Homo sapiens: one gene and its partners. The protein of the gene in region 2 purifies or fractionates together with the protein of the main gene of each other region. This does not show direct contact. Each region holds a gene or a part of one and is shown on either strand. Other genes may lie near its edges.

Region 1 (3,328 bases), on a different chromosome or scaffold from region 2:
CCACTTCCAGTAAGCAGGCAGGAGGCAAGTGAAAGAGAGGGGACAAGCTGCCCGCTATGCACACTTCTGGGAAGTGATACCCCATTCCACTTACACCCCAGGAGCCTGTATTGGCACTTGGCTACATCTAGCTACAGTGGAAGCCAGGAAGTACTGTCTTAATTTTTTTTTTTTTTTGAGACAGGGTCTTGATTGTTGCCCAGGCTGGAGTGGGTTGGCACAACCATAGCTCACTGCAACCTCAACCTCCTGGGTTCAAGCGATCCTCCCACGTCAGCCTCCCAGGGTGCTAGGTAGATTCCAGGTGTGTGCCCCCATGCCTGGCCACTGTTTTTATTCTGAGTGTCTCTGTGCCTCGCTAAAAACCATGGGTTCTAGTACCACAGAAGGAGGAAGAATGGATGTGAAGGAATAAGGATCTTATTCCTGTCTCTGTCACAAGGATCTTAGTGGGGGTCACATGAGGGCCACAAAGACAAAAATCCTCCAGTATACACAAGTTGAACATATTGCCATTTATTTTGTTGAGGTTAAACATATAATTTTAACGTATTCAAACTTATTAATGGACATTTAAAAAGCTGAAAAAGTGAAGAGCTGTACCATGTCGTGGATTATTTTAATGTCATAAAATTCAAAGGAATGCCACATTTCAATAAAACATTTTAAGAAGTTGACATACTTTTATTAGAATCATGCAAATATTAGAGAAAGGTTAATGGCTTTTTTTTTAGTAGACATTACTGAGAAAACTGGCTCATTATATCACAAAAAGTGAAACTTGGATCTCATATATAAAGGTGTATTTCACTGAATTTTTTTTTTTTTTTTTGAGACAGAGTTTCCACTCTTGTCGCCCAGGCTGGAGTGCAATGGCGCGATCTTGGCTCACTGCAACCTCTGCCTCCTGGGTTCAAGCGATTCTCCTGCCTCAGCCTCCCGAAGTAACTGGGATTACAGGCGCCTGCCACCACACCTAGCTCATTTTTTTTTTTTTTTTTTTTTGTATTTTCAGTAGAGACAAGGTTTCAGTCTTGAATTCCTAACCTCCGGTGATCCACCTGCCTCAGCCTCCCAAAGTTCTGGGATTACAGGCATGAGAAACCATGCCCAGCCGATTTCTCTCATTTTTTTTTTTTTTTTTTTTTAAGAGACAAGGTCTCGCTGTGTTGCCCAGGCTGGTCTCAAACTCCTGGGCTCAAGCAATCCTCCTGCCTTGGCCTCCTGAGTACAAAAGTGCATCTCAAATAGTTTTAAAATGATGTGCAATATTTAGCAACCAGTACAGCCCAGCATCAACCAATTAGAAGAAGTGTCTGACTGTTGAGAACAGATGCAGCCAAGGTGTCACCCCGGTGTGTACCAGCTGGACTTCAGCACTGTGTAGTGTTCTCAATATGAAAGGAAAAGCTGAACAGCTAACAGGAGAAGATGTAAAATATCTTAACAACTCTATTAAATAAGCAATCAAAAAGCAACCAACTGCAGAACAAGATAATTCATACTGTCTACATTAAAATTAAAATTTTCTTTTTTTTTTGAGACAAAGTCTCTCTGTCACTCAGGCTGATGTGCAGTGGCACTGTCTCTGTTCACTGCAGCCTCCACCTCCCGGGTTCAAGTGATTCTCCTGCCTCTGCCTCCTGAGTAGCTGGGATTACAAGCATGCGCCACTGCACCCAGCTAATTTTTGTATTTTTAGTAGAGATGGGATTTCACCAAGTTGGTCAGGGTGGTCTTGAACTCCTGGCCTCAAGTGATCCACCCACCCCGGCCACCGAAAGTGCTGGGATTACAGACCTGAGCCATCACGCCTAGCCAAAATTAAGAATTTCTGTTCAGTGACGGATACCCCTAGATACAAAGAAAATTTCAATTTTTTCCCCTTTAAATCTTTTTTTTGAGTGGAGCCTTGCTCTGTCGCCAGGCTGGAGTGCAGTGGTGGAACCTTGGCTCACTGCAATCTCCGCCTCCTGGGTTTAAGCGATTCCCCTGCCTCAGCCTCCAGAGTAGCTGGGACTACAGGTGTGCGCCACCATGCCCAGCTAATTTTTTGTATTTTAGTAGAGACGGGGTTTCACCATGTTGGCCAGGAGGGTCTCAATCTCCTGCCCTCATGATCTGCCCGCCTTGGCCTCCCAAAGCCCCCTTTTTAATTTTTTTTTGTAGAGACGAGGTCTCGCTATGTTGCCCAGGCTAGTCTCGAACTCCTGGGCTGCAGCGATCCTTCTGCCTGGGCCTCCCAAAGTGCTGGGATTACCAGTGAACCTCCATACCCAGCCCAAATATGCATTCTTGGAATTATCTGCAATTGCCCAAGAATGTACAAGCAACTCCTGAGAATAAACCAAAAAAGATAAGAAACTCCATGAGAAAATGGGCAATGCACAGGAAGGGAAACCAGAAAGGCTAAGTGAAAAAATTCCCCAAATTAATGCTGATCAGATGAATGTATGTTAAAGCACTGCACCACTATCTACCCATGAGACTGGCAAAAATTAGGTAGTCTGGCAATACAAGTGCTGGCAAGGATAAGGAGAAAAGGGCGGCCTCAAGTAGGAGGGTCAGTCACCGTTCTAAAGAAAATCTGGAAAACCAAAGAGAAACTGACCTCTGTGACCTATAGGCCCATCCTGGGTACACATGCCACACAAGCACAGAAGGGAACACACGAAAGGATGTTTATCGTGGCCTGTATCCGGTGCCAAGGGGTCAGGGGCACCCAGGTGTCCCCCACTTTAGGCAATGTGTGTAAACTGCAATTGACATTGTGGAGTGCCACATGGCAGGTCAAAGCAATACTGCATTTCTAGAAGAGTCAATGGGGCTAGATCTTAGCACACATTGAGTGAAAACAGCATAAGACCTATTGCACAATAGCACTATGTACAGTAAAAGCACATATTCACACATGAAACGTGGTATTTTACAAATACATTCATATTCAAAGACATGGGTGCTTATGGGAGAGGATGGTGTAAAGAAAGGGAAAAAAGCCATAAAACCAGAGAATCTTTGCATGGGACTGTATTCCTGAGATCCCAAACCAAAGGGATGAATGTGCTGTTATGCCTTAAATGTGTGCACCAGGAAATGCAAACTAGAAAGGGTGGCTCTGAAGGGTCCTCAGGTGAGGAAGACCCCCAGGGCTGAGAATCCACCACCTTCATCCTTCAAAAGAGTACCTCAGTTGTCTGCTTACGCTTCAGCCAGCATGTGTGAGCTTGGTCATTTCCTGCAAGCCAGGCAACCACACCAGTGTATAAGCCTCAAGCAAATGTCACTCCCAAGCCCCAAATGGGACTAAGGCCTCTGCTGGGCTAGGCGT
Region 2 (8,701 bases):
CACCTTTCCGGAACTTCTCTGCCTGGTCTCGCCACTGTTTCACTTCATTCTCGTTGATGAGCCTGGCAGGGCATAGAGGGAAGGGGCAATGTGATTGTTGACCATTGATTCACAGCTTCCCAGGAGACATCATCTTTCTACCCTCCAGGTGGGGACCCTGGTCTCCAATCTGTCCAGCCACATCAAGGGGGCTAGGATTTAGACTTCCCAGGTGTCTCTCCAGGTCCCCTGCCCCGTTCACATTATGTGTCTGTGGAGACCGTGAGAGAAAAGACCTTTAGATACCCTATAACCCGGCCCCTTTGTGATACAGCCGGAGCCACTGAGGCTCAGAGAATGGGGATAGGGCAAGAGCTAATTAATGGTAGAACTAGGACTGAACCTCAGGCTCCCAAGAATTATATCATGACTTGCACCTCCTTGTAAAATAGGTTTTACCTTTAAAAGAGATCAAAATATTGGCCCTACCATGGTCCAGGTTTCCAAAGACCAATGCGTAAGAGCAAGAGACATCACCCACACCAGCAATACAGACTGAATGTGTTCAGAGTGACACAGAGGACAGCCTTGTTCATGCCAAGCTCTTGAAACTGTGTTCAAATTTAGCTTTTACCTTGACACCAAGGCCTAACAGAGGTGAAATCCCAAAGCGAGATCCCAAGAATCCTTTCCTTTATAAATCTGAGAATGTGGAAGAGTTAGACCCATGACTTTTGGCCTCTTCAGCCACATCAAGGACATAGAGAACAGAGTATGGAGAGGGAGAGTATTTCATGAAGACATTTCTTTGAAGAGGGCCACTGCTGTTATCCCCAAGATGCTACCTCCTTCACCACCATCCAAGGAAGGGGTTTCTTTGGGCCTTCCCCAAGAGTTTTGACTCATGTTCCCTGAAGTTGGGAGGGAGGTAGGGTAGACTGGGGCCCTACTTGGAACCAAGCAAAGCCCTGGGAGCAAAAGAAGAACACTGCTGTGTGGGGCCCTGCCAGCACTCCTAGAGTTCGTTGGCACAAGAGATGGCATGAGGGTTGCCCATGGGTCAGATATAAGCCTCATGGAGGAACTGGGGTGCAGTTTTCACAGTCCTGTGCAAGGGGAGCTGTTTCCACCTGAGCGAAAAGTGGGAACATCCACACCATAAGTCTACAGGCAGTGGACTGCCAGGGAACCAGGGACAGATGGAAGAGCTGGAAGCAGCCAGCCAGCTGGAACAAAAATCTTGCATGGCCAGTGAGCTGGGTTTTGTAGTGAGAGGCACCCAGCAAGGAACTTCTGAAGATTCCAGGAACACACTGACGTCTTTACCCATATGCCAAAAAGGCAAGAGAGCAGGGAGCCTGTTTACTAAATTATCTTATCAAGTAAGACCTTTTCCCTCTTTCCTTCCTGTCCCCAGGCTGCCTCTTCAGAGGGTCGGACTGGTTTGTAGAAAGGAGGGGTGGGAGATAGAAGGGGTTACAGGGTAAATAGAACAGAGAAAAGAAGGCAAATATCACACACAGACATATGTGCACACATATGCACATACACACACGCACACACACACACACACACACACCCTTCCCATTCCAGTTTCCTGGCCCCAGCTGGTGGAGGAGAAAGATTTAAGGCTAAATCATGTCTAGAATGTCATGTCATGATTTTAGTCCTCCTAGTTGTAGATTTCAGACTATGTTGCACTTGAAAGTGATCTTAGGACTCCTGTTACCCAAGAAGGGTTAAAAACTTCATTGGACCTCAGGAGTTTTTATCCTCTGGCAGTGGAAAAGATTGCCTACTAAATAGTGTAATGAATTGGTAGGAAATAAAACTAAAGTCACCTTTTGATCACTTTCCCAGTTGCACTTGTCCAACATACCAATTAGGATTTTAACTACATCAATATCTGACTATGCAAATGAAAACAGTAGCAAGAATAGCTGGAAAATAATTGTGTACTTGGCTTTGGAATGCAACATAATGAATCATTGACAGCCAATTTATCTCCTTAAGGGCAAGTGGCTCAAACTCATACTGAAAGTTAAGTAAAAGCTTAAAATTAAAAATTAGTATGTTAATGTAAGGCCTTATTATTAATTGATGTAGATTTAAATGTTTCTCTGTGTTTCTCTATCCAAGATCAATAAAATATGGTAAACCAGAAGGCCTTAGGCTCTGATAACCTTATCCAGCAACCTCATGATCAAATGGTCAGGCTCTATGTCAGTGGTCAGCAAACTTTCTATAAAGGGCCAGAGTAAATATTTTAGGTTTTACATACCATGCATAGTCTCTGTCACTTATACTTGTGTGTGTGTGTTGTTTGAAATGTAAAAATTATTAGTTCATGGGCCATACACAATAAGCTGGAGGACTGGAGTCAGCCCATGCACCCATAGTTTGCTGACCCTTGTTCTACGTTAATGTGTTTAAATTCCCCATCTATCCAAGCCATGCAGTGGATCGTGGAGAGTTGAGAACATGCCCAATACACCTGTGTTGGCTGTCCAAGAGAGTAATCACTAGCCACGTGTCATGTGGCTATTGAAATTTAAATGAAACAACCTTTAAGATTCAGTTCCTTGGTCATACTAGCCGTGTGTCAAGTACTCCATAGCCACATTTGGCTGCCATGTTGAACAGTAGAGAAATGCACTTTTTTCATTAGCTTAGAGAGTTCTGTTGGACCATGCTGCCCAAGACTCATTTCGGGATGACTGGGTTGCGAAAGGGAGCTGAGGTTTCGCTGGTGAGACCAGAGTGGGAGAGTGATGAGGAAGGTGGAGGAAGACAGGGCAAAGGCTGGCCACTGCTCACATGTTGACGATGTTCTTGACATTGAAGTTCTCCAAGGGAGCCAGGTCAGGGTCCACACCCCGCTCATCCTGGAGGACAATCTGCTGGAGGATGCGGTCCAGGAGCTGCCACTGCTGGAAGTAGCCACCGTTCCGTTTGTCTGAGGGATGACAGGTATCATATCTTTCCTGAGTCCTGAAGTCCCCCTTGGGCCCCACCCTAGAGTTGCTGCCTGGGGTCTGGCTGGTGAGGCATGCCCTTCTCCACCTATGGTAAGCTCCCAGTCTAGAAGAAGAGGCAATGCCATTGCTGATAATGGCAACTCACTGATTCAGTCATCTCTTGATTATCGGCAACTAGACTTCTACGGATGTGTCAACCACCTCCCCAACATATTTCTCTACTCCCTGAAATACTTTCTGGCTGCCTTTCTTCCTTGTTTGGACCCTGGGCATACTATGCCCAGGAAGTGCAGATTGCTTTTTACATTATCTATAAAAACCACCTGCTCCAAAATATTACATGCTGAATAATGAAGTCTCCAGGGAAGTTTTTTTTAAAAAAGATTTTAGGATTATCCACATTATTACTCTACAGAGAAAGATGAAGGGAAACTGATTGCAGGTGTGCACTGAGAGTCAAAATGGGTTAGAGAAGTGCTTAATGGAACTCGAGAAAATTTCTTGTGGAAGTGACCTTGAACTATGAAGGTAAAGGCATAGTGTGTTGTGTGTGATCTCATAGAGTCTCACTCTCATCCCCTCTAATGATAGTCATCTGGCTGGACATGGACTTCCTTTTTATGTAATAACCACAAACTCTCTTTCCTTGGTCCTTGATCCCTAGCACTTTATTGACCATCATAAAAAGCCAACAAGTTCAATCCTGACATCAAAGCAAACCACAATGCCTACAAGGTAGAATATCGAGTCTGCAAAGCCCCATTTTGGGGCAGAGTAGAAGAACCCATTCACATTGCCCATGGAACAGGAAACACAGGAATCCCTGGGAGCACAAGAAGTCAGGTTTCCCAGAGATTTCTATGCCCTTCATGAAGACCTGCTGCAATGAGCTTTGGAGAACTGATAGCTTCTTAATTCAGGTCACTGCATCTATCCTGTCCACAAGTCTACTGACACATGCATTGCAAAGTTGTATCATTTACCATCTACTTTTCACCCAGCAAAATCGTGTAAAGCCAGGTCACTAGCTCAAAGAGGCAGAACATGTTTTATCTCAACCCTTGACCCCGCAGAAACCAAAATTCTTTCTATATGTAAATATCTCGCTGAGCCTCAGGTTCACTCACTATTCAAATGGACATAATAATGTGTATTCCTTAGGTCATTCTAAGGTTCAGAGATGATGTGCTAAAGGACCTCACATCACGCCTGGCCCAGAGTTGGCACACAATAAGTCACAGTTGTCATCACTGTCACTATGATTGCTGACACCGCCAACATCAACCATTATGGTGGGCCACACTGGTTTTCAAAATATTCTCTTTTGTGAAGAGCTTAAGTACCAAGGGGTACAGTTAAAGCTCATTTCAAATTGCATTCTGGAGTGGCTATTAGCAATTATGTACAATTTATTCAATCACTGTGCACACCTGGATCTTAAGAACTTAGCCATCTGCTCCCATAGATGCTGACATTTGGTATTTGTAGGCAGAAGCAGGGGCAAGAGTGCAAGAGTGGAAGCCAACAAGGACTAGATGAAGGAGTTGATAAAACCTTAAGGAAAAAAACAACCATGTTCATTCCACATCTGTGCTACTCCCCCAAGCACAAAACTTTTTGGAACTCCCCAGCATGACTGATCTCTCCCCCGTCATGAGCTGAAAGCTGAGCTATTTAATTTTGCAATGATCAAGCTACCGTTTTTGGACTAGGATGTTGGAGTTGCTCAGGGCCAAGTCCCCAGCTCCTTCCCCAGATGACAGTGAAGACCTGACCCCAAGGAGGGAAGGAAAAGCAGGGGCCTCCGTCATGGGGCCTGCCCTCCCAAAAGCAAGTGCACAGGGAGACATGGTCAGACTCCCCAAACCAGGGAGGTCCCAAAGTCTTGTCTAAACCTGCCCCAAGTCAAGGTTCAGGCCAGTCGAGGGAAGCAGCAAGTGCAGGGTACTTACAGGGCATCTGCAGGCAGTGGTGCAGCACAGAGAGCAGGCAGGGGTAGGCCTCCGTGTACTTCAGCTTCTTGTGGATCAACTCAAACATCTGGGAAGCACTCTTGGTGTCGATGTGGACCTGGGAGAGAAGAGGGCACAGTGATCAGTGGGTAGGCAGCAGAGGAAGTCAGCAGGAGAGAGAAGACCCTGCTTCCATCCACTATGCCCTGTCTCATAGGAAAGGTTTTCTTCCCCTGCCTCTGGCCCAGGCTTAAAAAGAGAAAGACAAAAGGAACAGGGAGATAGTCAATTTTATAAACTAGAGTTTCTCAGTCTCAGCACTATTGGCATCTTGGGTCAGATAATTACTCATTGTGGGGGCTGCCCTGTGCTTTGTAGGTTGTGTATCAGCACCCCAGCCTCTCCTTAGCAGATGCCAGTGGCACCCCCTCACACAAGTCAAAATGTCCCCAGACATTGCAAATGTCCCCAGGGGGAGAGGAGAGCAAAATCATCCCTGCTTGAGAGCTACTGATCCAAACTAGGGAAGGGAGCAGGGGCATAGAGGATTCAAAGTAGCAGGTGGAATGTGGCGCAGGTCCACCACCTGGGTTCAAACCCCAGATCTACGCTTTAGTTGTGTGATGACAGGCAAGCTGCTTATCCCCTCTAACCTCTGTTTCTGTATCTATAAATCCAGGGCTTTTGTGAAAATATAATGGATGCACTCAGTGACTGTAAAGCACCACCCAAAAGTAGCTTTCTATTTGGATGGGGATTTTATAACACAATAAAGCAGAGTTGTGTGCTTTCAGGGTTGCCGAGGTTAAAATGAAAATACAATTTAGTTTGCTAAGCATGATCTGGTTAGGGATGGGGAGAGGGGACTCAGGAAGTTGCTGGAAGGCAGGGGAAAGTCAGCCCAGGAAAGGTATTTGAGACTAATCACATGCAATAACTTGCTCCCTTTCCTTTGGGGGTTTCAGTCTCCTCCTAGGCCGATGCCTTCCCGGGGGAGGCTTCCACAGCCTGCATACTACCAAGGCTCTGGAAGTGAGATGTGATGGTTCGTTTTAGGTGTCAACTTGACTGGATCAAGGGATACTCAGATAGCTGGTAAAGAATTCTTTCTGGGTATGTCTGTGAGGGTGTTTCCCAAAGAGACTGGCATTTGAATCAGAGGACTGGGTAAGGAAGATCCCACACCAGCTCCACCACAGCACAGGGCCTGGAGAAATGGCTGTGGGGCCACCTAGAACCCTACTACCATACTACGATCACTCCACCCTGTGGGCTCCTCACCATCCAATCAGCTTAGGGTCTGGAGAGAACAAAAAGGCCAAGGAAAGGTGAATTTTCTGTCTACCTCTTTTGGAGCCAGGACATCCTTCTTTTCCTGCCCTTGGACATCAGAACAGCAGGCTCTCCAGCTTTTGGATTCCAGAACTTGCTCCAGTGGCCCCTTATGTTCTCAGGCCCTTGGCCTTGGACTGAGCCATGCTACTGGCTTCCCTGTTTCTCCATGCAATAACTCCGACCTGTCATGGGACTTCTCAGTCTCCATAGTTGCGTGAGCCAATTCGCCTAATAAATGCCCTCTCATCTGTCTATCTCTATATATGTATCCTATTGGTTGTGTTTCTATGAAGAACTATGACTGATCACAGGACCTGGCCATGGGGGTGCCCACCAGGGAACCAGCCCACACCAGCCCTGCCACAACACGGGGTCTAGAAAAGTGGCTGTGGGGCCACCAAGAACCCTACTACCCCATTGCAATCGCTCCACCCTGCTGGCTCCTCACCATGTCAAACCTCCTGGCTAGCTCCAGGTCATCCTCATTCCGCACCATCTCGAAGAAGTCTAAATGTCTAGACAGAATGGGGAGACAGAGAGAGTAGACATTACAGCCAGGACACACCCTTGGTTGAGGGTTACAGCCCCTTCGAGCCCCCCACTGGCTAAATCTGAAAGCTTCATTCAAGCAAAATGAAGGCAAAATGGGAAAGAAGCCGCTGTTTGTAGGACACCCATTGTCTGCCCTTTATAAGATCCCATGACCTTCCTTCAGGGAGGCCAATCCAGGGTCCCTTCACCTTAGAATGGGCTTCTATACTTCGGCACTACTGACATTTTGGGCTCGCTTATCTTTGGTTGTGGGAGGCTGATCTGTGAGGATGTTTAGCAGCATCCCCAGCCTCCACCCACTAGATGCCAGCAGCACCCCCTAGTGTGACAACCAAGAATGTAATGTCTGCAGGCATCGCCCAATGTCTCTCAGTTGAGGACATCAGCCCTGGTCTATTTTCCCCAGTACTTTCATAGGGTCTCCAAGTCAACCCTCAAAACTAATCTCTCCCTCATTTTCTATCCTCATGCACACATCCACTTGTTCCACCTCAAAAGGATCCATCCTCTGTCCCTTAAAACCTAGTGTAATAAAATAGCCTAAACTAATGGGACAGAACCAGAGGGGCCTCACTGGTATCACATGGGAACATAATTGTGCCCTTGGATCAACAAGGGCGTTATAGCAAGCATTTTGGGTGGGACATTTCTTTGTTGAGCAGGAAGGTACTGCGGGACATTTAGCATTCCTGGCCCCCAACAACCAATACCAGTATTGCCCACCATCAACCAGTTTGAAAACCAAAGAGTACCCTCATATATTTCCACATGCCCCCCAGGGGGAAGTACTGCAATGGTTGAGGGCTACTGGGTTCACCTGTCTATAACATCAGAGATGAGACAAGCAGGTCAGCAAAGAGGACAGGCAAGGGCACCCCTTCCCCCCACAGAGCTGATTCTGAATCTGCGCTGGGAATGGCAGCTGGTCTCCAGAGGGAAGGGCAGCCTTCACAAAGGTCCCAACTATCCCCATCTGAGGCACTGTCCCCACAGGTTTGCAATGGAGACGGGTGCTTGGAACTTACTTGTCCAGGATGGCATTTTCATGTTGCCGGAGCTTGTCAATCACAGGCTGTATACCCAGCATCAGGAATTCATACCGTAGATGTAGGCGGAACTCCAGATTATCCTGGGGGTCACCAAGGGAGGGCCAGACTCATTGGCAGATCTCAGTTTCCACAACATCCCCAGTGGAGCCCTCATCACCACCCTAGCCACAGACCCAACACATCTCCCACAGCTAACTCACCTGGAGCTGCTTCCAATCCCAGAGTTCCAAGAAAGAATGGAGACCTTATTTCTTAGTTTAAAGCAAACCCACTGCCCAGCTTCTTTTAGGTCTCCTGCCCCACTTCCTTCAAGCCCCTTGCCAGTTCTAGCCTTCAGCACCAAAGAGCAGTGTTGTAGAGTGACATGGAGCACAAGCTTTGGAATCAGACAGATCTTGGATCTGGTTTTGTGACCTTGGGAAAACTTTTAGTTTCCCCATTTGTGAAATGATCATAGCATAACTAATCTACAGGGATGACACTTGTTATAATTACCTGATGAGGTGTGGTTACCAGCTAATCAGAGCACATGCCAGCCATGAAAAGGTGGTACCAACAAAGGTGATGTTAGCATCTTAGGGGCAGATTATTCCCCCAACCGGCCTTCCCTAACCCAGGGCATAAAGATAAATTGTTTTTAAAAAAAAAAAAAAAAAAAAAAAAAAAGTATGCTGGCGGAAAAGAGGGGAAAGTAAAGATCATTAAATTGCTCCCTTTGCCCCCTCTGTCCTTCAAGTTAACCTTGACCAGGGCATCTGATTGCCTTAGAATTTGGAACGTTCACCTGCTCTTCAAGTTCTTCTATTGTTGCTTTTTTTGTTGTTTCTTTGAGATGGAGTTTTGCTCTTGTCCCCTA
Region 3 (8,701 bases), about 68 Mb from region 2:
TCCACTTCCAATGCTATTGGGCAAATCTTTCAGACATGATCCTGAGCATTTGAGACAATGGAGGAATTATCACAATTTCTAGCTAAAATGAACCTATCATTCCTTTTACTTTTTAATTTTAAAAATATGAGATGGGGGTCTCACTTTGTTGCCCACGCTGATCTTGAACTCCTGGCCTCAAGCAATCACCCTGCCTCAGCCTCCCAAAGTGTTGGGATTACAGGCAGGAGTCACTGCACCCAGCATCATTCATTTTAAAGCTCTGAAATCTTTTGATTGCATTGGGGTACTGAGATGGATTTTTTTTTTTTTTTTTTGAGACAGGGTCTTGTTCTGTCACTCAGGCTGGAGTACAGTGGCACAATCTTGGCTCACTGCAACCTCTGCCTCCTAGACTCAAGCGATCCTCCCACCTCAGCCTCCTGAGTAGCTGGGACTACAGGTACACACCATGATGCTCAGCTAGTTTTTTAATTTCTTGTAGAGACAAGGTCTCACTATATTGCCCAGGCTGGTGTCAAACTCACGGGCTCAAGTGATCCTCCCGCTTCAGCCTCCCAAAGTGCTGGGATTACAGGTACCAGTCACCACACCCAGCAGATTTTAAAAAATACCTGTTTATCACAAGAAAAACATATTTAAAAAATCATCATTGCAAAGCTCCACACTGTAAGAAGCATGGATCAGTCAAATTATCTTTTAAAAGCCCTCTTTAATTCCAAGGAGATAAAGAAAGTTATTTGTCATTAAACATGTTACATGTATGACTAATATTTATTATAGCTAATATAATAGTTTAGAACAAGGAAATTTAGTAGAGTTGTAACATTTTGGTGCTACATGTATAATTCAGCATAAGCCAAAGCCTTTTTAAAATAACCAATACTATCATTTTATGAAATCTTTACAAGATAAGCACAGTAGTACAATATTTAAGCATCTCAAGTCTCCATTTAAGAGTTGACTATCAAAGAATGACTGTTATAAATAAAGAGCTCTATGATGTTCCACTTATTTAGTCTTAATAAGGTAGGGAAATAAGTGACATACTTTTTAGAAGAATCCATGCAGTGGACAGAAAGTCAGATTAGGTAGTCCCTAGGGATCCATCCAGCTCTGGGAATCTATCATCAGATGGCCTCTAAGGTTTCTTCTAGCTCAGAAAATAGAGGTACTTGGAACATAATTTTTTAAATTTTAAATGGTTATATAGGTTAATAGTATTTTTTGCTTTTCAAAATTCATTGCTGGTGATGTCTATTACTTATTTGATGTCATGTCTTTGGCCAGGAATGCAATCCTAATTAGCATTGTTCCAGGAAAACATTTCATTTTATAGGGAGCATATCCCAGAAACATTAGAAAATACTAGTCCCAATATAAGTAACATTTACCAACTAGACTCTGGGCTACACTTTAAAATATCTGATGTTCAGCCAGGTGTGGTGCTTATGCTTGTAATCCCAGCACTTTGGGAGGCTAAGGCAGGAGGATCTCTTGAACTCAGGAGTTCAAGACCAGCTTGGGCAACATAGTGAGACACTGTCTCTACAAAAAAAAAAAAAAAAAAAATTAATTATAAAAAAAAAAGAAAAAATATATCTGATGTTATTTCTATCTCTCAAGTTCAACAATAAATAATCCAAAGTACATTTTTATTTGCAGCAAAATTTAAGACAGACAGTACTTTCTTTTTTCTTTTTTTTTTTTTTTTTTTGAGACAAGGTCTGGCTCTGTCGCCCAGGTTGGAATGCAGTGGTACAATCTTGGCTCATTGCAACCTCCACCTCCCGGGCTCAAGACATCCTCCCATCTCAGCCTCCCAAGTAGCTAGGACTACAGGCACTTACCACCATACCCAGCTAATTTTTGTATTTTTTGCAGAGACAGTGTTTCACTATGTTGTCCAGGCTGGTCTCGAACTCATAAGCTCCAGCGATCTGCTTCAGCCTCCCAAAGTGCTGCAAATACAGGTATGAGACACTGTGTCCAGCTGATGGTACTCATAAAAGTAGGCATCTAAACTCAATACCTGAAAAACAAATGTGATGTTAAATTACATCTGAAATTTTAAAAATGTATTTAAAAATCCAAATAAAGCTTACAATTTCCTTATTTCCTTTATTTTAATGTGTCAAAAAAACACTTAAAGATATTCTTGTAAATACATATAAGCTGTGTGTCAACATTCAGTACTATGCAAATCATTTTTCAATATGACAAAATGAAAAACTTACACACTTTAGGGTAGCGCTTAATACTTATCTTTGAAATCTATTGCTGATGCTAGGTCTAAAGAGCAATGACTCAACCAGAAAAAATAGTAAAGGCTGCCTTTTCCTTTTTAAAGTGCTTATTAGCTTTATATCCAAAAACAATGGTTTTTACAAATACATAATACTGAAAGGTGCTCAAAAAGTCACCACTTACAGAATTGAACATGTCATTTTCTAACTCTGCACATGTAAACTTGTTTTATCTGCATTAATGAAGATTGCTTCAAATGGCTCTCAATCATATGCTTCAAATCAAGACAGTGCTAAGTTCCAGCAGCATAAACAGTGACAGCAGAACAAACCCCAGCACATTTTCAGTGGATCACAGCAGATCAGAGAAAGTGTAACAGCTTTTGAGTATGTTATACATCCAAGAGCCTTATATTTCACTCCACATAAACAGTAAACATAAAAGAAAAAAGAAACACTTTGTCTCCCTATAGAGCATTTTATAGTATAGGAAGGGATTCAAATTCTCTTTTTAACAAAATTCTTGTTTCTATATAGAGGAGATTTTATATTCTTAATGTTTACAACAAAGCCTATTTCCACCAAAAAAGCAAGAAGAAATTAATAAATGAAATCCTGAACTCTAAAAACCTAAGAAATAAAACTGTGAACAATTCTGAAACGGAGTGTTTTTTCTAAAGGCTAATACAAACATACCAAAATAGAATTTCTGAGCACGAACTATGTGATTTCATTTCAATCGTATCACTTTCATCTGATTGAAATAATTTAGAAACAATAAGGATGATCTTAATCTCACTATTTTCTGCATGAGACTATCGTTCCGATTCATCCCCTCAATACACACCACTGTCCAACAGTCTTACAGTGAGCATCCTCTCAGGTCCCTTTCTGCTCGCTGAACCTTAAGCTGGTTTTACCCCTCCTGTCTCTCTTCTCCAAAATCCTCTATATATCTTAAGAAGAAAATATTCCTTTAAAAAATGACAATTTAAATACAGTGTGATAATGCTACATTTGATTTAAAGTAGTAATAAATTATAAATTGCCAAATAACTTAATGTAATTCACGATGCAAATCCTTGGTATAAAAATAATCCATATTGCCCTGAATATAATAAAGCAATCCAGTGATTTTTAAATTACTTATGAAATAAAGGCAAAAATAAGATGTAAAATACTATTTATAAAAGTCAAGTAAGAAACCAGTTACCATAAATCTTTTTACAAAGATAAATGTAATGTGGCTTACTACTTTTAAAAATTGTCAGGGAGGTTTGCAATCAGTGGTTTCAAAAATGACTCTAGGGAAACTAGAGACTGAATTATATATTATTGTGATGTACAACATATTAACTATATATATAACAATAATACTGCAATGGGGGGTAATTAAGCTACTTCCTAACAAGTACATTTCTTTTTCAAAGTCTTTACTGTAACTGATTAATTTTTAAATGTTAGTTTTCAAAAACTTTTCTACTTGAGATATTTATGTTAGTAAGAAGATACCAGAAGTCTAGAATAGTAATCAAATGCCTATAAAATAAAATAATGATTGTTCTTGCATGTTCTGTTATTGTGACAAATACACATTAAAATAGATAACATTGCTATGCCTGGAAATTAAAAATATCCAAATCTGTTAGAAAGAAGTGGAAAAGGAAAGAAAAATCGAAAATTCTTATTTAAAAATGGATCTGAAGTCCTTGTATTTCTTAAGAGCTTGACTTGTCAAATCACAGTTTATCTTCTTTCTGAAACCAAGTTGTGTCTTCCACCATTCATTCACGTGATATGTCAATTCTCCATTTTGTAGGTCTCAGTTTGAATTTTCCTGAATATTTGCAAAACTGGTACTGGACTTGAGACGTTTGGCTAGATAAATCAAAAGAATTATATTTTAATTTAAATTTAATTATCAAACATGATTATTTACTATTTTTATGTAATCTATAGTATTTATCTATTAATTCTATGTTTGAATCCTAACAGTTCCAGCCTTATAAGAATTAAAACCTAATTAAAACTTTTTTCTACCAACCTTAAAAACACATAACTTTGTTAGAAATTGCACATGACTTTGTTAGAAGCAGTACAAATAAAACAACATCATTTATATCTTCTTGAACATCACAATCTTAAATATGTAATGTACGTGAAATAAATGTACTTAGACAATGAAAGTGCTATAAGGTAGAATAACAAAATTATACATCTAAAAGTCTAAGTTAGAAATCCAAATCTGAATTTCTCTTAAAAGAATTCAGTGAAAACTTCCCCAACCTGATAAAGAGCATGTACAAAGATTCTATAGCAATCATTATGCTTAACTGTGAAAGACTGAATGATTTTTCCCCCTAAGATCTGGAATAAGACGAAAATACCTGGTCTTGCTTGACATCATGCCACTAATTTATCACCAGCGCAACAAGGCAAGAGAAAGAAAAGGAAAGCTATACATATTGGAAAGAAAGAAAGAAAACTGCTTCTATTTTCAGATGAAAAAAAAATCAGTGAAAGAACTCTGTAATGGGAAAAAAAAAAAACAAAAACATTTTAATGACCCTCAAAGAAAAGTGAGTTGTATATTATTATGGAACTCTGTATTGTAAAAAAAAAATTTTAATGATCCTCAAAGAAAAGTGAGTTTTATGTTATATAAACACACAAACACATATGGCTGCTAACAAAATACGTTACCATCAATTCTGATTTGATGCTAATGGGACTGAGTCATTAGGGTTAATAAAACAAATCATGGCTATTTGGCTTGGTAATATGTTTTGTACTTATAGTTAAACATGAATGTTTCTCATGTTCTAGAAATGAAAAACAATCATGCCCATAGTGAGAGTATTTTATACTGAGTAACTAAGAGTCTCCCTACTTCAGAGCTTCACAAAACTTGGGTAGGGGTTATGATTTAGAAGCTCTGCAATGGGACCCTAGTACCTGTACTTTTTTAAAGCTCTGCAGATAATTCTGATGTGTAGCCAAGGATGAGAACCAGTGTTTCTGGTTTCTTTTTTTATTTTATTTTATTTATTTTTTTTGAGACGGACTCTCGGCTTTGTCACCCAGGCTGGAGTGCAATGGCTCGAACTTGGCTCACTGCAAGCTCCGCCTCCTGGGTTCACACCATTCTCCTGCCTCAGCCTCCCAAGTAGCTGGGACTACAGGTGCCCACCACCACGCCCAGCTAATTTTTTTTTTTTTTTTTTTTTTTTGGTATTTTTAGTAGAGACAGGATTTCACCGTGTTAGCCAGGACGGTCTTGATCTCCTGACCTCATGATCCGTCTGCCCCGGCCTCCCAAAGTGCTGGGATTACAGGCGTGAGCCACCGTGCCTGGCCTACCAATGTCTCTGGTTTCTTTTTTTTCTTTTTTTTTTTTGAGACGGAGTCTCACTCTGTCGCCCAGGCTGGAGTGCAGTGGCGCGATCTCAGCTCACTGCAACCTCTGCCTCCTGGGTTCAAGCGATTTTCCTGCCTCAGCCTCCCGAGTAGCTGGGACTACAGGCGTCTGCCACCACGCCCGGCTAATTTTTTTTTTGTATTTTTAGTAGAGATGGGGTTTCACCGTGTTAGCCAGGATGGTCTCAATCTCCTGACCTCATGATCCACCTGCCTCGGCCTCCCAAAGTGCTGGGATTACAGGCGTGAGCCACCGCGCCCGGCCTGTCTCTGGTTTCTATCAACTGTAAGTGGAAAATCACAACATGACTTCCTGGACGAGTGTACTGCTTCAGCTTAAAATAAAGGGAAAACTTAAACTAAAAACATTGGCCTAAACTAAAATCTACTTCTTAAGCCTTCAGTAGATTTGGGAGGCAAACCAAATCAATAGTTTGGGTTTTTGAGAATTACTTTGTTAAAAACTACTAGAAGTGATCTAGCTTCTGACAAAATTCAAATGACTTAATAAACTGGACAAGTTAAATACGAATGAGTACATACACCTACATCTTCCTTGCCTTTATATTCCCTACCTGATAAATCCCCACATCCTTTAAAATTCTAGCCCAGGGATCATCTAACGGTGAATTTCAACACCTCTAATGCAGTTAGCTCCTCCCTTCAGGCAGGGAAGACAAACAAATAAAGTAGAGAATAAATGAAAAAGATGATTTAAATAACCAATTATTTAATTTAAATTAGTTTAAGTGATTAAGTGCCATTAAAGAAAGACGGCACAGAAGAACAAATGGAGAGGTGTATTCTTAGACTGGGGAGTCATAAAAGGTCTCTTTGAGCAAGTAACTTTAGAGCTAAGACCTGGCTTGCAAGAAGCCAGGTAAGTAAAGAGGGAAGGGCCTTGGAAAAGGGGCAGTGTGAATGAGCTTGGTAGTGGAGAAGAACAGAAAGGAACCAGACTGTCCACAGCACCATGAGCAATGAGGAGAATGGATGTGACGAGTTTAGAAAGGTGGCTATGGGCCAGGTCATGTACAGCTTGGAGAGCAGACCCTGGAAAGTAAGTTTGGATTTATTCTAGGTACAATGGGAACACATTAAGCATTCCAAGTTAGTAGAGAAACATGGTGAATTTGTGTTTAAAAAATTATTCTAGCCACTATGTGGCGTATGGATTTTAGTAGATCAAGAAATGGAAGGAGGGATACCAGTTAAGGGGCTCTTGCGTTAGTACAGATAAGAGATGAAGATGGTTTGGGCTAGGGTTTACCAGTGGAGGGAGAGAGACGGACTAAGCAGAACTGGCAGCATACTTGCTAATGAATTAAAAGGGGATGAGAGGGGAATGTGGGAATGGAAAAATAAAAGAAAGAAAATAATTAAGAAATGACTACAAGGTTTGTGGCTTCCATAGCAAATAGTGACACTGGTAGTGACTTTTACTTTGACAGCAAACAAAAAATCCTGATCAGAAGCAGTAAATACTTTCCATAAAGTTAAATAGATTAGCAAGGCAAATAAGATGCTAAACTTTAAAAGTATACCAAGCTCTGAAAAATAGTTTCTCAATGGTGAGGTGCCCACAATATTTTGCTATTATTCTAAGTAAGTGCTTTAAGGACCTGAGCTACTGCATATTTACAGAATGCTGGCAGCCTTCAAAAAACCTTTAATAAATACACCCATGACAAAGACTCTCCCCTCTAGTAGCTAGCATTTTAAGGTGACAAAACATTACAAATTCAGTTCAAACTGATCTACAGGTAACCTTTTTTTAAAAAAATTAGATATATTAGAAGTGAAGTTAGATGAAGTAGTGATCGAAATTTATAGGGAAAAGAATTTTTATATCAGACATTCCTAGACTACAAATAGTATTTGAGAGAAAAGAAAATTAACCTTTTCCCCTAAACAGTTCTCTTTTTTAAAAACTAAAATTATTAAGGCATAAGCCTGTACTTTCATTCTGATAATAAACAAGAAAGCCACGTGACTTAGAAGCCACTCTTCCTTAGCTGGATGGGATCTCTAGTTAGTGCTTCTTTTGCTCTGGCCTATTTCATAGGGAGAAAGAAAGGGAATTAATATGTATTGAGCATATACTATTATATCAAGTAATCTCCTTGGAACTACGATTCCAATTTGTTCACAAACAAACTGTCTGTTATGTCAGCTATAGTTTCTTCCTGCCTGCCACACTTAGGTGGTTCTACCATGACTCCGATGGGTCTAAGAGCTGTCTGTATCTCCCTGCTATTGCCATGTTAGGAGTGCAAAGCCTCTGTTGTTATTCTTCTGTTGTTGCCAACCTTATTCCAGGGGTAATCTAGCTTTCTCAATTTAATCATCTGAAAGACACTGTGTTTTAACTTTTTTTTTTTTTTTTTTTTTTGAGACAGTCTCACTCTGTCTCCCAGGCTGGCGTGCAGTGGTGCGATCTCGGTTCACTGCAACCTCCGCCTCCCAAGTTCAAATGATTCTCCTGCCTCAGCCTCCCGAGTAGCTGGAACTACAGGCATGCGCCATCATGCCCGGCTAATTTTTTGCATTTTTAGTAGAGATGGGGTTTCACCGTGTTAGCCAGGATGGTCTCGATCTCCTGACCTCGTGATCCGCCCACCTCATCCTCCCAAAGTGCTGGGATTACAGGCATGAGCCACTGCACCTAGCCCTGTTTTAACTTTTTATTGTCCACACTTATAAAATTTTCACAGATCTCTTTCACTAGTAAGCATGATTGTAAAACTTAAAGCAGAGAGTCCTTTTAGGCTAATCTACTTTGAGTTCTCAGAGTAGCTATCATTTCTAAAACAGGCCTAAATTTTTAAAATACAGGCTTTTATCTATAAAATAAATAATTGTAAAAAACTTACGCAGAATGAGTTTGCGTTTCTTTTGCTCTGAGTGAAGAAAGCTACTAAGGTAGAAGACAACAGGTAGAAAGAGAATGAACACAGAAACAGCAATTACAGGCACTGTGTCACTGCAAGGGACTGAACAGTTGAAAGTTCGACTCCATAGTTTTCGAGTGATGTTCA
Region 4 (8,701 bases), on a different chromosome or scaffold from region 2:
TCAGTTCAGAAGTCAGGATCATAAGCAAATACCATTACAGGACAGTGACTGTAACACTCTGAGGATGGGGGTCATCTTACTGTGCACATGGTCATTAGTTGCACACACTATGTGGTTCTCAGAACTGACTGTTTGATACACTTTAATGCAGCTTAACCCAGTTTGTAGGGCTTTTCCCTCACTTTTGTAATTCTTAATATTTATACCTAGTATCTTTGTTAGTGGTGTTTTTTTTCCTGATATAAATATATTTAGTCCTTTTATATGCTGTCCTGGGAAAATAAAGACCTGGATTCTGGCCTTTTGACAGTCTCCTCTCTGGGTTTTCCTTGCTCTTTATCCCCAGCATATGTGAAGTATTTGTGCCACAAATGTACCAGCCTCTACTGCACAGAGCCAAGGCACACAGCACAGCCATCAGGACACAGAACCAGATCTCTACCCTGTTGATGGCTGGCTCTTCCTCCTGGGGCCAAGAGCTGTGAAGAGCCTGTGCCCCCACATTGGGAAGTCTTGGGGGAGTGTGAGTGTTGGGAGCGGGTGATTGTGGGGGAAAATCAACCTGTGAAAGGATCCGGGCTTGTGCAGAGTTTGTTTATTCACATATTCTCAAAGAGTGAGTAAGCGTCCGCTACGGGCAGTCGCTGAGTCTTCCGGGCACTTGGGATAGAGAAGCGGACAAAGGCCCTGCTGTGTTGCCCCTGTCATCTAGGGTTGGCCGTGCTTGGGCTGTGCTGGGGAGTCATCACACACTTCCTTCCCTGTCCCCGCTTCTTGGGAATAGGCCTTCAGCTGCCCAGACCCTGGCATGCCTTCGTTATTTGAGTTCAAAGACTGACCTCCCACTGGCTGTTCATGTTAGGAGGCGTCTGCACAGAGAACGCACACTCGGGGTCTGGAAGGCTGAATGTGTACACTTATGTGTTGGTGAGGCACTCCCCCTGCGTGGGCCCTGGCATTTGCCCCCAGTGTCTGAGGCTAAGCTAGGGTGGCGGAGGCTCTGTCAAAAGCTGAAAGAAGAGGGTCTGTGGGCAGAACTGGTTTGCCCTGTAGAGGAGAGGGAAGCCAGACCCTTGACTTAGGGGCGCAGAGTCGGTGTACCTATGGGTGGGAAGAAGACAGTTATCCAGGGATACTTACGGAAGGACATAAATCACCTGGAGTTTTGGGGAGATATGGATATGATCTCCGTTTAAAATATTTTATCCCATTTTAGCCTGTATCACCCAATGTGTCCTGATTTTTTGTTCTGAAAATATGCTCCCAGTAGAAGCAGTCAGACATGGTGCACACCTGTAGTCCCAGCTGCTCTGGACACCCAAGGCAGGAGCATCCCTTGAGCCCAGGAGTTTGCGTCCAGCCTGGCCAACATACTGGGACCCCATCTCTTAAAACAAACCAACAAACAAACAAAAGTTACCCAATCGAAGCTGGACACAGATGAGACATTTGCTAGCACAGGAATAACTGCGGGTAGAGGGTGGGATATAAGGAAAGGTGGCTTCCCCAAGTCATTTGTGCAGGCCAGTGAACAAAACATACTGGATCCAAGGTCAAATTCGTAGTGATTGTTCTATAGGGCTCTTTCTGTCCTGTTCTGTTTGGTGGGGGTGGGGAGTGATTTCAGAGTTCTTGTTATAATTAGTCACATGGATTACATTGGCGTTTTTCTTCATTGATTCTGCTGATCCATGCCCTCGAGCTCTCTGGTAGGCCTGTTGGGGAGGAGGGGAGCTCCTGTATTGGCATTGACTGGCAGATTATGGCTTGGCGTTCTTTTCCCAGATTACCTCATTTAATCCTTACAACAGCCCTGCAAGGGAAGTATCATTTTGCTTTTACAAATGAGAAAACTGAGGCTCAAAAAGGCTGAGTCATCTTCCCATGGCCACACAGCTAATCATTGTTCAGGGCTGAGTCTGTGCCTGATTCTGCTGAGACCATCAAGCCCTCATCCACTCCTACTCATCTCATCTGTCTGAGTCCATTGGGGGGCCTCACCGGCATTCCCTGTTGTCTGTTTGGCTGGGGAGGGGAGTGTCTGGCAGCCTCAGCGGGAAAGATGAGGGAGCAATCTGATCAAGACGGTCAGCGCATTATATTGAGAGTGTCAAAGCATCAGGCTTGTTTAGAGCCAGGAGTTGGGATTATTCCTAAGTTTTGGTTCCCCCACGGTCCTGGGTGGATATTTGCATGGGGTATGTCTGGGTTTGAATTTCAGACTTATTCTCGATTTTTTATTTCAGGATCTAACTTGGCAAGATGAGCACTCTGCCCCTTTCTCCTGGGAAACAAAGGTAAGTTGGATTAAATTTAGATCTATTTGTTCTTTTAAAAAGAACTGAGTAGTTGTATATTTTTCTTTCAGCATTTGATGGACTCAGAAGACAGCCCCCTGACTGCCAGGCTGCAGGGGATGTGTCCATTGTTGGTAGAAAAGGAGGGGATGGGAGGAGCATGGTGAGGAATTAGGAAACTATTGTGTGTGGTTTGGTGATAGTGAGTTCAAAGTAGTAGTGCTTTCTGCCAGGGTCCAATGACGCCCCATGATGCCCATTGTCTAGGACTCCCGGCCAGCTTGGTTAAGGGGGCCAGCCCTCTTGGGGGCCCTGTCTCTGCTCATACCTCTGGTTCCCAGCACTTAGCACCTTGATGGGAGATGCCCCATAAGACAAAGCTTTGAGCAAATGGGAGGTGACGAGCTGATTGATAGACATAGACATCCATTTAGCTAATTCATCCCAACGTGGATCACTAATTCTGTCTCCCAGTCATTCTTCTTCTCATCATTATCATCATCATCACCAGAGTTGCTTAAGAGCATCAAGCTTCACTGATTTTAATTCATTTTCCCCATCTCCTAAGTTGCCCCAGTAGAAGTACATTCATAAGCAAAATGACTAAAAGACAGGTGTCTTTAACCCAAGGGACAGAAATAAAAGACCAAGATTTTCTGAATTCTGGAACATTTGGTGATGTGTGTTGGAGGGTTCTTTACGTCATGAGAGTGTGTTACAGACAGAGACGGTGGTGAGCCTGGAATAGGGCTCGGACTGCTGGGCAGATCAGGGTTTTTAAATACTGATACCTCAAGGCACTTGTTTTTTGGTTTTTCACTTGTCCACATCATTGCTGATCAGAGCCCTCATCCCAGCAGGAGACCTATGAGGAGGGTGGGCCAGAGTGGTTCATGAAGGACCCTGAGAGGCCCTCATGTTGGCGACTGTGTCTTAAAATGAAATATTGCCCAAGGGTTCAGATGGACACAAGGACAGCTGACACTGTTCTTGGCACACAGACAGTATTTAGTAAGCTATTGCCGATTGCCCTGGGTGAAGTGAGCTGGCCTCAGGGCGTGGGAGCGTGGGACAATTGAGATGAGTGTTAGAGTTAAGAGGTGGTTTTGGGGAAGGCATGGCATTAATGTAGTCTCCCTAGGGATCGGGTACGGGTTGCAGGGGTGACCAGCACTGTCTTGGGAGAGAGCACAAGATGTTAAGGAGCCGCCTGCAATTGGAATAGCTTCTAAATCCAACACTGGATCCTGTGTCTACTGACATTGCAAAGGAAGTCATAAGTGGGTAAAAAGTGCATCATTACATTGATTCTTAGCCAGGGCCCTCAATATTCCTCTTCTATGGGCTCCCAAAATGGGTAATTGTGAGAAGTACTAATCCTATAGATGATATCTAGTGGTAATAGCCAGATAGATTCTCTGTGTGTTGGAAATGAGCAGCCTTGGGTATGGTGACCCAGAAAGCAGTGCAGATTTTCCTGGACTGGGTCTATATTTGAAGATATCATAGTGATAAAGGCAAAGGAAAGTAAAAAATAGTTAAAGTGTCCTAAGACCTAAGCTCATCATGTTCCCCACGAGAACATCTGTTCTCTTAAGAATTTAGCTTGTTAAATGTTCCTGAATCAGCTATTTGTGGGACAGGACATTTCATCTTTTATTAACTTGGCATAAATGACATTCTGGGACAAGGTGGTGCAGCTCCTGGAGTGGCCACTGATACAAGCACAGCTGCTGGGGCCAGAGTGGGAAACAGGTGCCTGGCGAAGATCTCGAGAAAAAAGAGAGCAAGTACAGTCCACTTGAATCACACTTGTGCTGAGAGGCTCATTGTCCACAGATGCCAGCATATCTGGTCCCTTAGGAACCAGTGTAAGTTGAGGAAGCTTGCTAAAATCTGGTTAATATGTGTCACCCATCAGAAATTGCATCCTTTTAGTAAAGTGTAGTCTTCATAGCTCAGAGTTGGCAGTTTCATTTCATACTCCTGTTAGATTAGAGTTCCAGTTTGTTTCACAAACTGTTGGGCTCACTCTGTGTCCTCACCTTCCTGTTTGATCTCTCGAGGTCAGACTTACTATAGTTTACTATTAGAAACGTCTAGGGGCAAAATAGAGCGTATCTCAGAGAGCAAGGGAGCTGTCCCTTCCTCCTTCTTCACTAGGCAGTGCCGAGTTTTAAAAAGCCCATCACTCATTCCTCCTTTGTCTTAACCCTGGAGTGCCCTGCCATCCTGCTTGAAGAGATTTGCCAAACTCTTCTTAGGACTTAAAGGCTTATAAGATCTTCATTGGAGAGCCACAAACAGGAGGTGGCTTTAGTGAAGGTAGGACCCCCTAATCTCCAATTGCAGGACTGGAGGGAGACTTGGACCCCATTTCTTGTTACCTCTCAACTGATGCCTTCCTCACTCTATCAGTTCTCTATAGATGCATAACAAACTTAATGGCTTGAAGCAGCATTTTATGTGCTCATGATTGTGTGGGTCAATGATCGGAGCAGGGCTCAGCTGGACTGTTCTTCCGTTGGCCTTGCCTGGGATCACTTATGTGTCATCTGATCGCCTGATGGGAGCTGGGTGCTCTGAGAACCTTGCTCACGTGTCTGGTTGGTGCTGGCTGTTAGCTGGGCCACATGTCTCCAGCAAGCCAGCCTGGACTTCTTCACACAGAGGTGGAGAGATCCGTGTGCGGGAACGGAAGCCTACGAGGACTCTTTTGAAGCTTAGGCTGGGCAATTGCATAGTATCACTTCTGCTCTGTTCTGCTGGTCAAATCAAGGCACAAGCTGGGCCAGATTCAATGTTTGAGGAAAGAGATTGCACCTCTTGATAGAAGAGCTGCAGAGAGTTTGCACCCATTTTAAATCTAAGATTGTATGATGTCATTCATTCCTTGGTTAACCTTGGCCATTTCTTTCCATTTTTAATTAATCACTCATTGATTTTTTTAAGTTTTATTTTTAATTGTGGCAAAATACACACAACATAAAATTTTCCATCTTAATCATGTTTATGTGTATAGTCTGGTGGCATTCAGTACATTCACATTTTTGTGTAAACATCACCATCATCCATCTCGAGAACTCTTTTTAAAAATTATTACTTTTTAATTGACAAATGAAAAATTGTGTATATTTATGATGTACAACAAGATGTTTTGATACGTGTGTACATTGTGGAATGATTAAGTCAAGCTAATCCACACCTCCAGAACTCATCTTGCAAGACTGAAACTCTGTTCCCATTAAAGAATGACTGCCCCCCACTCTCACTAGCCCATGGCAGCCACCATCTATTTTCTGTCTCTGAAATCATTCATTGATTTTTTTTTTCCAGTAGATATTTATTGTATACCCCGTTTATGTCAGACATTATGCTGCAGGCCCAGAGTTGAGCATATGCCACTTCTGTGCTCGAACAACAGCTCAGTGAGTGGACAGCTGTGTTTGGTGGCAAATCTCACTCAGCACAAAAGCTATAGCCACCGAGTCACTCCAGTCATTTTCTCCATACGTTTAACCCAAATTTGTACACATGTTGGGTAGATGTAACCTCATGCCCTTCTTCAGCTATTCAGTTCAACAGACATTTAGTGGATGCCAGCAGAGTGCCCAGCTCTGACTTCTCCATCCCCTGACGAATCTACCTACACAAGGGTAAGCCTGACCCAAGGTCATGGCCATGGGCAGAGTTAAGAATCGCAGGGATTTTTGGTTTCTCACCCAACTGCTGCACCTCTGTATGGGTTCCTTTCTCTTGGCCAGCCCATGACCATTCCACCTCCACAGAATGAGCTGCGGTTGTGCTTGGGACCTGTGGTCGCTGCCCCCATGCAACGCAGCTTTGATCAGGAGAGCTCGCTGCAGCCTCACAGTAGCAGCTGTGCACCCACCTGGTTTTCCAGCCTGTCCACCCTGCCTCGGTTGCCTCCTCTGAGGCTGATCGTGGCTGTGGTGCCTCTGTTACCCAGACTTCTTCCATCACAGAAGGGAGGCCTGCCTGTCCCAGAAGGGTGGGGGTGGTCGTGATTGTCATCTTTTCCACTCATCTATCAGCTTGGCAGGCGTGCCAGGGGAGAGGGGGCCAGTGGGGACCTAATGTTGCATTCCTGTCTCATGCTACTGCTGTTTCGAGAGGAAAAAACTCAGCACTTAGAAGGCTCCAGACAGGAGGAGGCAGGGAGTGGAGAGAGGATTCTTTACATTCCCCAGGCGGTCTGGGCTGGAGAATTCAGAGGAGAAAATGCCTTTGGGGCAGGTCAGGCCCTGCTTCAAAGTTGGCTGGGCTCTTGGGACCCCATCCCCAGCCTTGGTTGGCTGGGCTCTTGGTTGGCTGGGCGTTGTGACCCTGTCCCCAGCCTTGCCCCTCCCCCAAGCTGTCTGGCTGCTTCTCCTTTCTGGCTACCCCCTTCCTTCACCTGATGTCCAGCTGCCTATTAGGGCAGTAAGTAGGTTGGGCTGGGGATCGGTTCCTTGATTTCATGGGTATCAAAAGATCTTGGGGGGCTAATATAGATCATTCCCAGAGTAGGGAAGCCTTCCAGACGCCTCCTTGGGAAGATACATAAGCATTTATGAGCACAGGCCCTTCCTCTGTGCTGTGCCCATGATAGGGATGTGTGTGTACTCTGAATTCTTTCACCCTTGGGAGGCTGGTGTCCCTGTTCACGCTGTGGGTCAGGACACCGGGATGCAGGGGGTCAGGTGCCTGGCAGGTCGAGTGGGCGGAGAGCAATTGGAGCTCAGGTCTATCTGTGACTTTCGGGGCTTTGCTGCCCATGGTGGGACAGAAGGGCTGTTCCAGCAGGATGTTCCTGGACATAGAGGATTCATTGGCTCTGCTCAATGGTTCCTCCTCACTACCAGTCACGGGGCTTCTGAGAGGCAGGACACCATGGGGCTGCATCCACCCACCCGCAACTTGGTCTCTGTGCTTCTCACCGAGACCCCCATCTCTGCCCAGCAGTCCCCTCCCTCCCTCCTGCCCTTCCTCTGGGCTGTGCCTCACCCCTTCCTGAGACAACAGCAGACCCCTGTGTGCCCCTGCTCTTGGCCTTTCCCTGCTCTCCATGTGTGTGGGACGATGCGTCACTCGCTCAGCCCTGCCCTCAGCCCTGCACTGCCATCCCACAGGCTCTGTTCTCACCCACCTCAGGGACCATGTTCTCTTGGACCTCAGTGTTTTGCTCCGTCCCCTGACCCCTATCCACCTGAGAAGGCCCCACTTGCCCTCCAGACTCAGCACAAATCCTCTTTTAACAGTTGTCCCAATCAGGAATCTCACCACGTGCCGGGTCTGTGCTGAGCACCCTCCCTGCATTGCAGAGTGTAATCCTCACAGCAACCCACCTTACAGATGAGGAAACTATGGCATAAAGTGAAGATGTGAACCAGGCAGTCCTAAGCCCAGTGCTGGGCTCTTAAGCCCTATGCAGCTTCCAGAGTTACCCTCTTCCCTGTTACCGTTAGGAAGCACTGTGATAGAGGAAAAATGGGGATCATGCTGATGAATTCCTTGTTGGTGCGTCTTTGTCCCTGTGAGATGATGAGCCCAGAATGGCAGACACAATTATTTGTCCCTTAACCTTGACAACCCTGGGGACTGGTGCACCTCTGCACCCATTTCCTGTTGGGCCTCAGCTGAGTTCTCCCTGGCTGGTGTTTTTTGCCTTAGAGGCTGACGGGGTGGATGTTTGTTTGCTTACGTTCACGCCCCGTCTCTTTGGGCCCCTGGGTTTGTCCCTGTCAGCTGCCACTTCTACTAAATTTGTGATTCTAAAGGTTTTTAGTATCCTCCTGCTCATCTTCCTCCTCTTCCCTCTTTGGAGGGGAGGTGGGAAGAATAGATGTTAAGTGGTTGGTGAATGTATTAGGATTTGCTCCAGTAAATGATGATCTTTTCTGACAAGGCTTCTGTAGCCTTTGTCTCAACAATTTAGATCTGTCCGAGGCTGCCAAGCCAAACAGTTAGTTTTGGCAGCCTGCACTCGTCTTTTACTGAAATATTACACATTCCTCTTCAGTGAGTGGGACGTTAAAAATAGACACTGGGCTCGGTTGTGGTCCTTCTGTTTTTAGAACAGACATGGCCAACTGAGACCCAGTTCCCCGCATGGGGTGACTGACGCCCAGCCCTGGCCTGGCTGGAGGGAGTCCTCCCAGCAGAGCCTCCGTGGGCACTTGGGACATTGAGGCTGGGCTGTCAGTGTTGCCGTCAGGAGGGACGGCTTCCTTGTGGACTCTCCTATCTCCCCTGTCTCAAAGACTATAGAAGACCACTAAGTTGCATCCCCAAACCCCGGCTTTCTGTCTGTGGCCAGCGCCCATGAGTTGGCGTCCCATGGCCCATGGGTTCCTCCCCTTCATGAGCCTCATCCTCCCGCCAGCCCTGGCTCCCTGTTGCTC

The links.
Region 1: the proteins of DAAM2 (region 2) and NFATC2IP purify together in Homo sapiens (affinity purification with mass spectrometry; one large-scale study listed by BioGRID and IntAct). This does not show direct contact.
Region 3: the proteins of DAAM2 (region 2) and OSTM1 purify together in Homo sapiens (co-immunoprecipitation; one large-scale study listed by IntAct). This does not show direct contact.
Region 4: the proteins of DAAM2 (region 2) and C1orf198 purify together in Homo sapiens (co-immunoprecipitation; one large-scale study listed by IntAct). This does not show direct contact.

The regions. Positions count from the first base shown.
Region 1 is NC_000016.10:28,964,265-28,967,592, reverse strand, and holds the end of NFATC2IP (NFATC2-interacting protein), read right to left. Parts: 3' UTR 501-3,328; downstream 1-500. UniProt on the Homo sapiens protein: In T-helper 2 (Th2) cells, regulates the magnitude of NFAT-driven transcription of a specific subset of cytokine genes, including IL3, IL4, IL5 and IL13, but not IL2.
Region 2 is NC_000006.12:39,869,564-39,878,264, reverse strand, and holds part of DAAM2 (disheveled-associated activator of morphogenesis 2), read right to left. Parts: intron 7,926-8,701; coding exon 7,822-7,925; intron 6,760-7,821; coding exon 6,693-6,759; intron 5,028-6,692; coding exon 4,910-5,027; intron 2,936-4,909; coding exon 2,797-2,935; intron 63-2,796; coding exon 4-62; intron 1-3. UniProt on the Homo sapiens protein: Key regulator of the Wnt signaling pathway, which is required for various processes during development, such as dorsal patterning, determination of left/right symmetry or myelination in the central nervous system.
Region 3 is NC_000006.12:108,040,717-108,049,417, forward strand, and holds the end of OSTM1 (osteopetrosis-associated transmembrane protein 1 precursor), read right to left. Parts: coding exon 8,537-8,701; intron 4,125-8,536; coding exon 4,069-4,124; 3' UTR 693-4,068; downstream 1-692. UniProt on the Homo sapiens protein: Required for osteoclast and melanocyte maturation and function.
Region 4 is NC_000001.11:230,849,264-230,857,964, reverse strand, and holds part of C1orf198 (uncharacterized protein C1orf198), read left to right. Parts: intron 1-1,957; exon of another isoform or gene 1,958-2,087; intron 2,088-2,246; coding exon 2,247-2,297; intron 2,298-8,701.